Linked DNA regions of Homo sapiens: region 1 is linked to region 2. The links come from fine-mapping of genetic effects on gene expression. A gene starts in region 2. The other region holds a variant in brackets. All regions are shown on one strand. Distances are between the middles of the regions. Region 1 overlaps CCDST (cervical cancer associated DHX9 suppressive transcript). Region 2 holds the start of FLG (filaggrin).

The links. PIP is the estimated chance that this variant, and not a neighbour inherited with it, causes the effect.
Region 1: its variant is the best candidate, but not a certain one, in a credible set for the expression of FLG in prefrontal cortex (CommonMind, PIP 0.65).

What each region holds. Positions count from the first base shown.
Region 1 is chr1:152,200,750-152,205,154 of GRCh38, reverse strand. The region is part of intron 1 of CCDST (cervical cancer associated DHX9 suppressive transcript); the gene reads right to left. Among named protein-coding and RNA genes, the nearest start is that of CCDST, 14 kb to the right of the region's middle. The variant C/T (reference allele first, on the strand shown) is at 2,476.
Region 2 is chr1:152,322,628-152,327,032 of GRCh38, reverse strand. FLG (filaggrin) reads left to right here and starts at 1,794. Exons shown (of 3, transcript NM_002016.2): 1 at 1,794-1,844. The region is part of intron 3 of CCDST (cervical cancer associated DHX9 suppressive transcript); the gene reads right to left.

The DNA.
Region 1 (4,405 bases), 120 kb after region 2:
CATAGAGAAATCAGTCTTGGAAAGGAAAAGAATACCTCATATACTCTTGAAACAAAAAGGAGATTAAAATTCAGCAAAAATACAATTACCTCCATGTTTTTAAAAGAGGTTCCTAGGATGAGCTGCATCAGAATCACCTATGGTAATTATTTAAAAAGCAAACTGATGGCCTCTATCCCAGATCAACTAAATCCAAATTTCTAGTAGATGGGACCCAGGAATCTGTATGTTAGTGGTCCATGACCTAGTTGATTCCTTTTAGAAACAAAGTTAGGAGAATTCACATCCGTTGGCCCCTATGGAGACAACAAAACTGACTCCTTGCCCAACCACCATTATGACTAAGCATATAAAGTCGCACCATTGGAGAGGAAAAACAAAAATCTTTACAACCCTGAGATAAGCTAAAAATGAGGAAGAAGATTCTACCTAGTCTTCCAAATCAATGAAGCCTTGAGCCCTTTCCTATAAATTGCTAACTCTCTAATGTAAACAACTTCATCCCTGACTTTTGCAACACTGACACCTACAAGTATGATAATGATATGGAGGAAATTTTTTCATCCACATGAATAGACTAACTGTAATCTTGGTAGCCTGACTCCTCATTCTTTTTGAATCACTTCCCAATCTTAACAAAGAAGGAAGTAAAGTGATCTACTAAAAGGAAGATGGGGAGGGAGTGAAGCAGGAGGCTTAGAAAGATCTGAAAAGGGAAAGGTCTGAAAATTCCAGCTGAGGGGTCTGGTAAAAGAAACCACCTAGGTATGATGAAAGGGATTGCCAGGCAATATTCAGAGTGTGGGCAAGGTTAATATAATAAATGTGTAGAAATAAGCTAAGGCACCATGTATGTGATATTTGCCATCTTAACAGCCTGGCAGAAGAAGCCAAAAAAAAAAAAAAATGGAATTAGGTTAATCCCAGGTTTGAGACTGGCAGGGCAGGTACAAGGAAAAATGAAGGGTCCAAGGACACATAATGGTCTGTAGAGAAGGTTATAGGTATGGGAGGAAAAACCAGAAACCCTTACAGCAGGGGTCCCCAACCCCTGGGCTACAGACTAGTACTAGTCTGTGGCCTGTTAGTAACCAGGCCACACAGCAGTAGGTGAGTGGCAGCCCACCGTGCATTACTGCCTGAACTTCGCCTCCTGTCAGATCAGCAGCTGCATTAGATTCTCATAGGAACACGAACCCTATTGTGAACTACACCAGGAGGGATCTAGGTTGCATGTGCCTTATGAGAATCTAATGCCTGATAATCCAAGATGGAACAGTTTCATCCCTAAACCATCCCACCCCCACTGTTCTCCCATCCATGGAATAGTTGACTTCCATGAAACCAGTCCCTGCTGCCAAAAAGGTTGGGAATTGCTCCCTTACAGGCCCCCTCCTTGGCCCAAACTATATGTGTGTGAAGGGACGGATAATTTTATAGCCAAATTTCCCCTAGGCAAGACCTTACACTCTCGACTCCATTATTGTAGGAAAGATGGGCCTTGTTAGCAGTAGCAACTTTTCAGGTAAAATAAAACTAACAATATGGAATATACTAGGAGCTATGTACCAATGTCTCATTACTTACCCCTTTTTTGCCTTCACAATAACTCTTTGATGCAGAGATCCTTAAACTTCTCCTCAGTATGCAAATTGAGGTTATAAATCCAAGGACACACAGCTCACCTATGATGTAGTTCAGATTTGAACTCAAGTGTGACTATGAACTCATTCTCAATCTACTAGCCCACAGTGACTTCACCAGAACAGCCAGGCTCCACTTCACAGAAAAAGGAAAACAGCATCATTAAAGGAAAACCAGATTTCTAAGAGCAAGGGATGGCAGGGAGTAAGGATATAGGGATATTTCTTGGCAACAAAACCAAAGAGAATGAAACATAATGTAGGATAATTAGCAGTGAGAGCACAGCAAATAAAAGGCAATAAGTAGCTGTAAATATTATATCTGAAGGCATGTGTGCATGGGGAGTAGTGGAGGTGAAGCTAAGAGCCAAGTGGAGAAGGAAGTGAGAGGAAGAAAGTGAATTTAGCCCACTCACCATCATTATCTCTGACATCTCTCAAAGGAAGTAGAGTGGGAAACAAAAGGAGATTAAAGCAAGTTTGTCTAGATAGGAAGATTCATCATGCCTGGCAGGAGGGGGTCACTGTTATTGCAACCTTTAACCCAATCCTTTTCTCTTCTGCCCACTTTGGGGAGTGATCTGGGTGACTTGGTTTGTTCTTTTTTGAGATGCTTACCAATTGCTGACAACAATCACAATGCATTATAACATGATTGAGGCCCACAACTTCAAAAGTGTGATGATGGAATCCTAGATAGATATGAAAGAAGGCAGGAAGGGGACTGGCAGACTGAAAAAATAGAGACAGGATAAGGAACAGATTTCTTTGAAATGTGCATACCCTGTCTACCAGCAGTTCTACTCCTACTCGTATACCTCAGAGGAGTTTG[C/T]ATGCAGACATACTTCATTTTATTGTGCTCCACTTTATTGTGCTTCACAGACTGTGTGTTGTACAAATTGAAGGTTTGAGGCAACCCTGTCTGGCAAGTCCATCGGCACCATTTTTCCAACAGCATGTGCTCCCTTCATGTTTCTGTGTCACATTGTGGTAATTCTCACAATATTTCAAACTTTTTCACTATTATTATATCTGCTATGGTGATCTGTAATAAGTGATCTTTGCTGTTACACTTGTAATTGTTGAGGGCACCACAAACCTTTCCTATATGAAACAGAGAGTTTAATCGATAAATGAGTGTTCTTACTGCTCCAGTGATCAGCTGCTCCCCTTTCTTTCTCCCTCTAGTCAGGCCTATCTATTCCCTAAGATACAATATTGAAATTACGCCAGTTAGTAACCAGACAATGGCTTCTAAGTGTTTCAGTGAATGGAAGAGTCACATGTCTCTCACTTTATTTTATTTATTTATTTATTTATTTATTTATTTATTTATTTATTTGAGACAGAGTATCACTCTATTGCCCACGATAGAGTGCAGTGGCAAGATCTCGGCTCACTGCAACCTCTGCCTCCCGGGTTCAAGCGATTCTTATGCCTCAGCCTCCCAAGTACTGGGATTACAGGTACAGACAACCATGCCCTTCTAATTTTTAAATTTTTTGTAGAAATGGGATATCATTATGTTACCTAGGCTAGTCTCGAACTCCTGGCCTCAAGTGATCCACCTATCTCGACCTCCCAAAGTGCTGGGATTACAGGCATGAGCCACCAGGCACAGCCACATGTCTCTCACTTTAAATAAAAAATAAGAGCTGGGCACGGTGGCTCACACCTGTAATCCCAGCACTTTGGGAGGCCAAGGCAGGCAGATCACCTGAGGTCAGGAGTTCAAGACCAGCCTAATCAATATGGTGAAACCCTGTCTCTACTAAAAATACAAAAATTTACCAGGCGTGGTGGCAGGCACCTGTAGTCCCAGCTACTCGGGAGGCTGACACAGGAGAATTGATTGAACCTGGGAGGCAGAGGTTGCAGTGAGCCGAGATCATGCCACTGCACTCCAGCCTGGGCGACAGAGCGAGACTCCATCTCAAAAATAAATAAATAAATAAATAAATAAGATTAAACTTAGTGAGAAAAGCATGTCAAAAGCAGAGAGAGGCCAAAAGCTAGGCCTTTTGTGCCAGTTAGCCAAGTTTGTGAATGCAAATGAAAAATTCTTAAAGAAAATTAAAAGTGCTACTCCTGTGAACACATGAATGATAAGAAAGCAAAACAGCTTTACCACTGACTTGGAGAAAGTTTTAGTGATCTAGATAGATCAAACCTGCCACACCATTATCTTAAACCAAAGCCTAATCTAGAGTAAGGCCCTAACTCTCTTCAATTCTATGAAAGCTGAGAGAGGTAAGGAAGTTACAGAAGAAACGTTTGAAGCTAGCGGAGGTTGGTTCATGAGGTTTAAGGAAATAAGCCATCTCCAGAATATAAAAGTGCAGGGTGAAGCAGCACATGCTGATGGAGAAGCTGCAGCAAGTTATCCAGTAGATCTAGCTAAGATAATTGATGAAGGTGGCTACACTAAACAACAGATTTTCAATGTAGATAACACAGCATTCTATCAGAGGAAGATGTCACCTAAGACTTTTATAGCTACAGAGATGTCAATTCTCTGGCTTCAAAGCTTCAAAGGACAGGCTGACTCTCTTGTAAGGGACTAATGCAGTTGGTGACTTTAAGTTGAAGCCGATGCTCATTTACCATTCTGAAAATCCTAGGGCCCTTAAGAATCATGCTAAATCTACTCTGTGCTGTATAAATGGAACAGCAAAGCCTGGATGATGGCACATCTGTTTACAGCATGGTTTACTAACTATTTAAGCCCCCTGTTGAGACCTACTACTCAGAAAAAAGAGATT
Region 2 (4,405 bases):
AAAGAATCAATGGTCTAATAAGGTTAAGAACGAGGACATTAAACACAGTTTTAAAAACTCGGGCATATTTTTATCTCTTTGACTCTGAACAAGATTGGCACACCCTTGCATCCCTTATTTGATCATGTCCCAGGCATTGCTGTAGGGCCCAAGGACACAAAGGATGACTCAGACCCAGTCAATGCTAGGGTGAGAAGAAACACAGGATTCAAGGCACCAGGGGGCAGGGGGCACACATATAAATAAGTAATTAATATAAAATATCACCAGTGCTATTGAGAGGTAAATACAGAGTATGTGAGGGAACACTGATAAATCTGGAGATGTCAGGTAAGGCTTTATGCAGGAGGTGGTAATTTTGAAGAATCTTAAAAGATAAAGAGAAGTTAAGGATGAGGGTCTCTCAAGTCAAGGTAGTGGAGGATAGCACGCAAAGATTTTGAACAGTAGTGGACCAATATGGGCTCGTCCAAGAAATATTGCTCATTCTAGAGTGACTTTTCCATGAGATACAGGTAATAAGAGGGACAATTGAAAAGATACAGATTCATGCCTATTGTAAAGGGGCTTGTACGTCAGGTAAAAAAGTCTGAAATTCTGCAGGCAAGAAGAAACCAGCACAGCGAATGACATAAGATGGTAAGCCAGCTTAATAGTAGAGAGAGAGGCTAGTTACGACACTTTTTTTTCTTTACCAATACCCAATTGAAAGATGGTCAGGTCCAGAACTAAAATTATAGCACTGGAGGTAGAGAATAGGCCTACATAACAAAATCTAAGCCTGAGTATAATTGATACGATGTGACATGAGCATGAGGGGTTAAGGAAAAGGAGAAATGAAAATGACTTTGTCTAGCTTGAGACACCCAGTGTGTGGGGGCATCATTACCAATATATGGGCTTCTGGAGGATAGTACATTTTGGTAGGAGGCACAATGTAAGTTCAGTTTTCAACACTATGGATTGAGATAACCATGGGACATCCATATGGAGATGCAATCTGCTCAACATAACAGTGTGTATATCATAAGACAGACCAGGGATAGGAGTCCCCTGTATATTTATGGCAATAAAAGAAAATTCATGGTTTAAGAAGGAAGAGTATGTGGAACATGTCTCTGATGCCACGATGTAATAACCTTGAAAACAAAGTAAAATTACACTAATGAGTCTTGCCTAATTAAACTCATGCTCCTAGTGATCACCACTTCTAGTTCAATTGTTCACATTCTTGCTCTGCTTTGAAAAATTAAAATTAAATTTGCCTATCCTCTACTGACCATAATTTCTAGAAGACGGCATTCATCTCATGGCAAGTTCTTCAGTACCCAAAGATGGAATACATAGATTAAAAAAGAACATATATGTAGATGCTTGTGATGTTTTCCTATCATAAATTGAATTTCAAGTTCTTATAAACGTATTAATATGTCCTACTCTTCTAGAGACAAGGATCAGGAAGTGTATTTATCAATAGATATTTACCAAGCACCTGTCAAGCCAAAGTGGGGTTACAGAAAAGTAGGTATGGGCCCTGCACACAAACAACCTGTATTAGCCAAAGGGACCCTTCCATAAAATTTCCAATATGTAAACCCAAATTTGGAACTTGCTGAAACAAGTACAGATGAGTACGTGAGGAAGCTGGGAAGTAAACACAGGTTGCTGGAGAAATAGAGGTGGAGATATGGGTGGATCTAGGTTTGGTTAGGAATGAATCAGACCATCCCACAGAGGGTGGCTCCTCCCTGCATGGGGCCTGCTATAAAAGGGCCATTATCTCAGCCTTCAGTACCCAGCAGGCTCCTTCAGGCTACATTCTATTTGCTCTTTTGGTGAACAAGGTAAGAAGGAATACATTTAATTTTGTCTACTTACTATTAACCAAGGTGGAAATCTGAATGTATGTGTACTGTAAGGCAAAAGGTTCTGGAAGTTTAGGGTTTTTCTCTTTCTTTTTAGTGGCACTGTCACTAAAAGGTTTATTTCTATATAGAAGGAAAATGAGGGCATAAATTTGCTTTCCATGGAGCTACTCAATACTCTGTATTGTTAGATTGTCCATTTATTCATTTACTTAACAAATATGTATTAACTACCTTCTACTTGGTCTTGGCTCTATCTATGCAGCAGTGAACTATATAAACTCCTAGCAGCTTACCTTTAATAGGGGGAAACATTTAGTAAACAACAATAAACAAATAAGATAATTTTAAATAGTGATAAGAACAATGAAGAAAATAAAAGAGTGATGTAGTAGAGCAGGGGTGTCCCGTCTTTTGGCTTCCCTGGGTCATAATGGAAAAAGAATTGTCTTGGGCCACACATAAAACACACTGACACTAATAATAGCTGATAAGCTTAAAAAAAAACTCGTAATGTTTTAAGAAAGTTTACAAATTTGTGTTGGGCCACATTCAAAGCTGTCCTGGGCCACAGATTGGACAAGCTTGTAGTAAAGTGATGGGAGGGAGGAGGAAAGTGCTTTAAATTAGATGGCCAGGGGAAGACCTCTCTAGGGAATTATCTTTGAGTTGAGATCTTAAACACAAAAGAAACTAGCCAAGGCAAAGGGCAAGATTCTAAGCAAGAGTAAACTTGTCCCAAAGAGCAAAAAGAAGCTAGTGTGCCTTAGAGCATACATAGTTAAAAAGAGGACCAGTGGTATATGGTGATGTCAGAGAGCTAGACAGCGTAGCTCATGTAAAGAGGGGCACAGTAGAATTAAAACAGTACATGTTAGATTTTAGCATGTACTTAAAGGGGTATTAAGCAGGAGGAGTAAGATAATCTATGTTTTTAAAAGACCACTCTGGGCTGCTACGTGGAAAACAGGAATATAGGAAGGCAAGAGCAGGAGCAGGGAGAGACTGCATTCTTTTATGTGAAAGATGATGGAAATAATAGAAATAACGAGAAATAACTGTTTGCTCATACCAAAATCTAGAAGTTATCCATGATTCCTGTTTTCTCATCACACTGATTCATCACCACGTCCAGTCAACTCTGCCTACAAACCTGCCAAATCTATCCATTTATCCCCCTCTCTGCCATTATCATCCTAGTCCAGTCTACCTTCATCTCCCAACACTGACTATTATGTTATCTGAAAATATAACAATTTATTCATCCATTTGTCTATGGGTAGATACTTGGGTCTCTTCCATTTTGGGGGGTATTATAAATAATAGGGCTATGCACTTTTTTGTGTACTACTTTTGGTTACACATATGTACATATTTCAGTTGGGAATATTCCTAAGAGTAAATCGCTAGGACTTAGATACTGTCAAACAATTTTCCAAAGTGCTTCTGTCACTTTATGTGCCTCCAGCAGTACATAAAAAAAAAAAAAATCTCAATTCTCCACATTCTCACCAATATTTGGTATTGTCAAGGATTTTTTTCTTTCTTATCTTTTTAGTCACTTTGGTGGGTGTATTGAGGTCTCACACGTTATTTCAATTTGCATTTCCCTAGTGCATAACAAGGTTGAGAAGTTTTGATATGTTTATTGGCCATTTGGATATCCTTTTCTGTAACGTTCCTAAGGTATTCATTTTTCCATTGAGTTAACTGTATTTTTTATTGATTTATAGAAGCTATTTTTATATTCAGGACAGATTCCTTTATTGGTTAAATGTGTTTTGTATATCCTCCCACTGTGTGGCTTGTACATCTCTCTTCTAATGCTATCTTTAAAAGAATAAACATTCCTACTTTTAATGCAGTACAATTTATCAGTCTTTTTCTTATTAATTAGTACTTTTTGAATTTTATTTAAGTATTTCCCCACCCCGAGGTCCTGAAGATATTCTCCAATGTTATCTTCGTTTATCTCTTACATGTAAAATCAACCTGGAAACTATTTTTTTTCCATTTGAAAATTCAATTAACCCAGCACCATTTATTCAAGACTATTCTTTCTCTACTGACCTACACTACCATCTTTGCCATTAACCAAATGTCCAGAGTGATATAAGACTGACTTTATACTATTATCTTTTATCATTCCATTTGTTTAGCCTTGCATCATGCCATATTTTCTTCCTTTATAACACACCTTGCTATCTGGTATGTCTTCCAACTTAGTCTTCTTAAAGATGGTCTTACCTAATCTTAGCCCTCTACATTTTCATATAAATTTTAGAAATCACCTTATTAATCTTTATTTTTTAAAAAAACTTCAGATATTCAGAATGGGATTTCATTGCATCTATAAATGAATTTAAGGAGATTTGATATCTTAATGCTATTTAGACTTTCAGTTCATAAACAAGCTATATATTGTCCATTTATTTAAATCTTTATCTCAATATTTATAATTTTCTGAGTATAGCTCTTTCATGTTTTCTTAGATTTATTCCTAAAAATTTCCTCTTTTTTTATGCTTTTATGAATAGCCT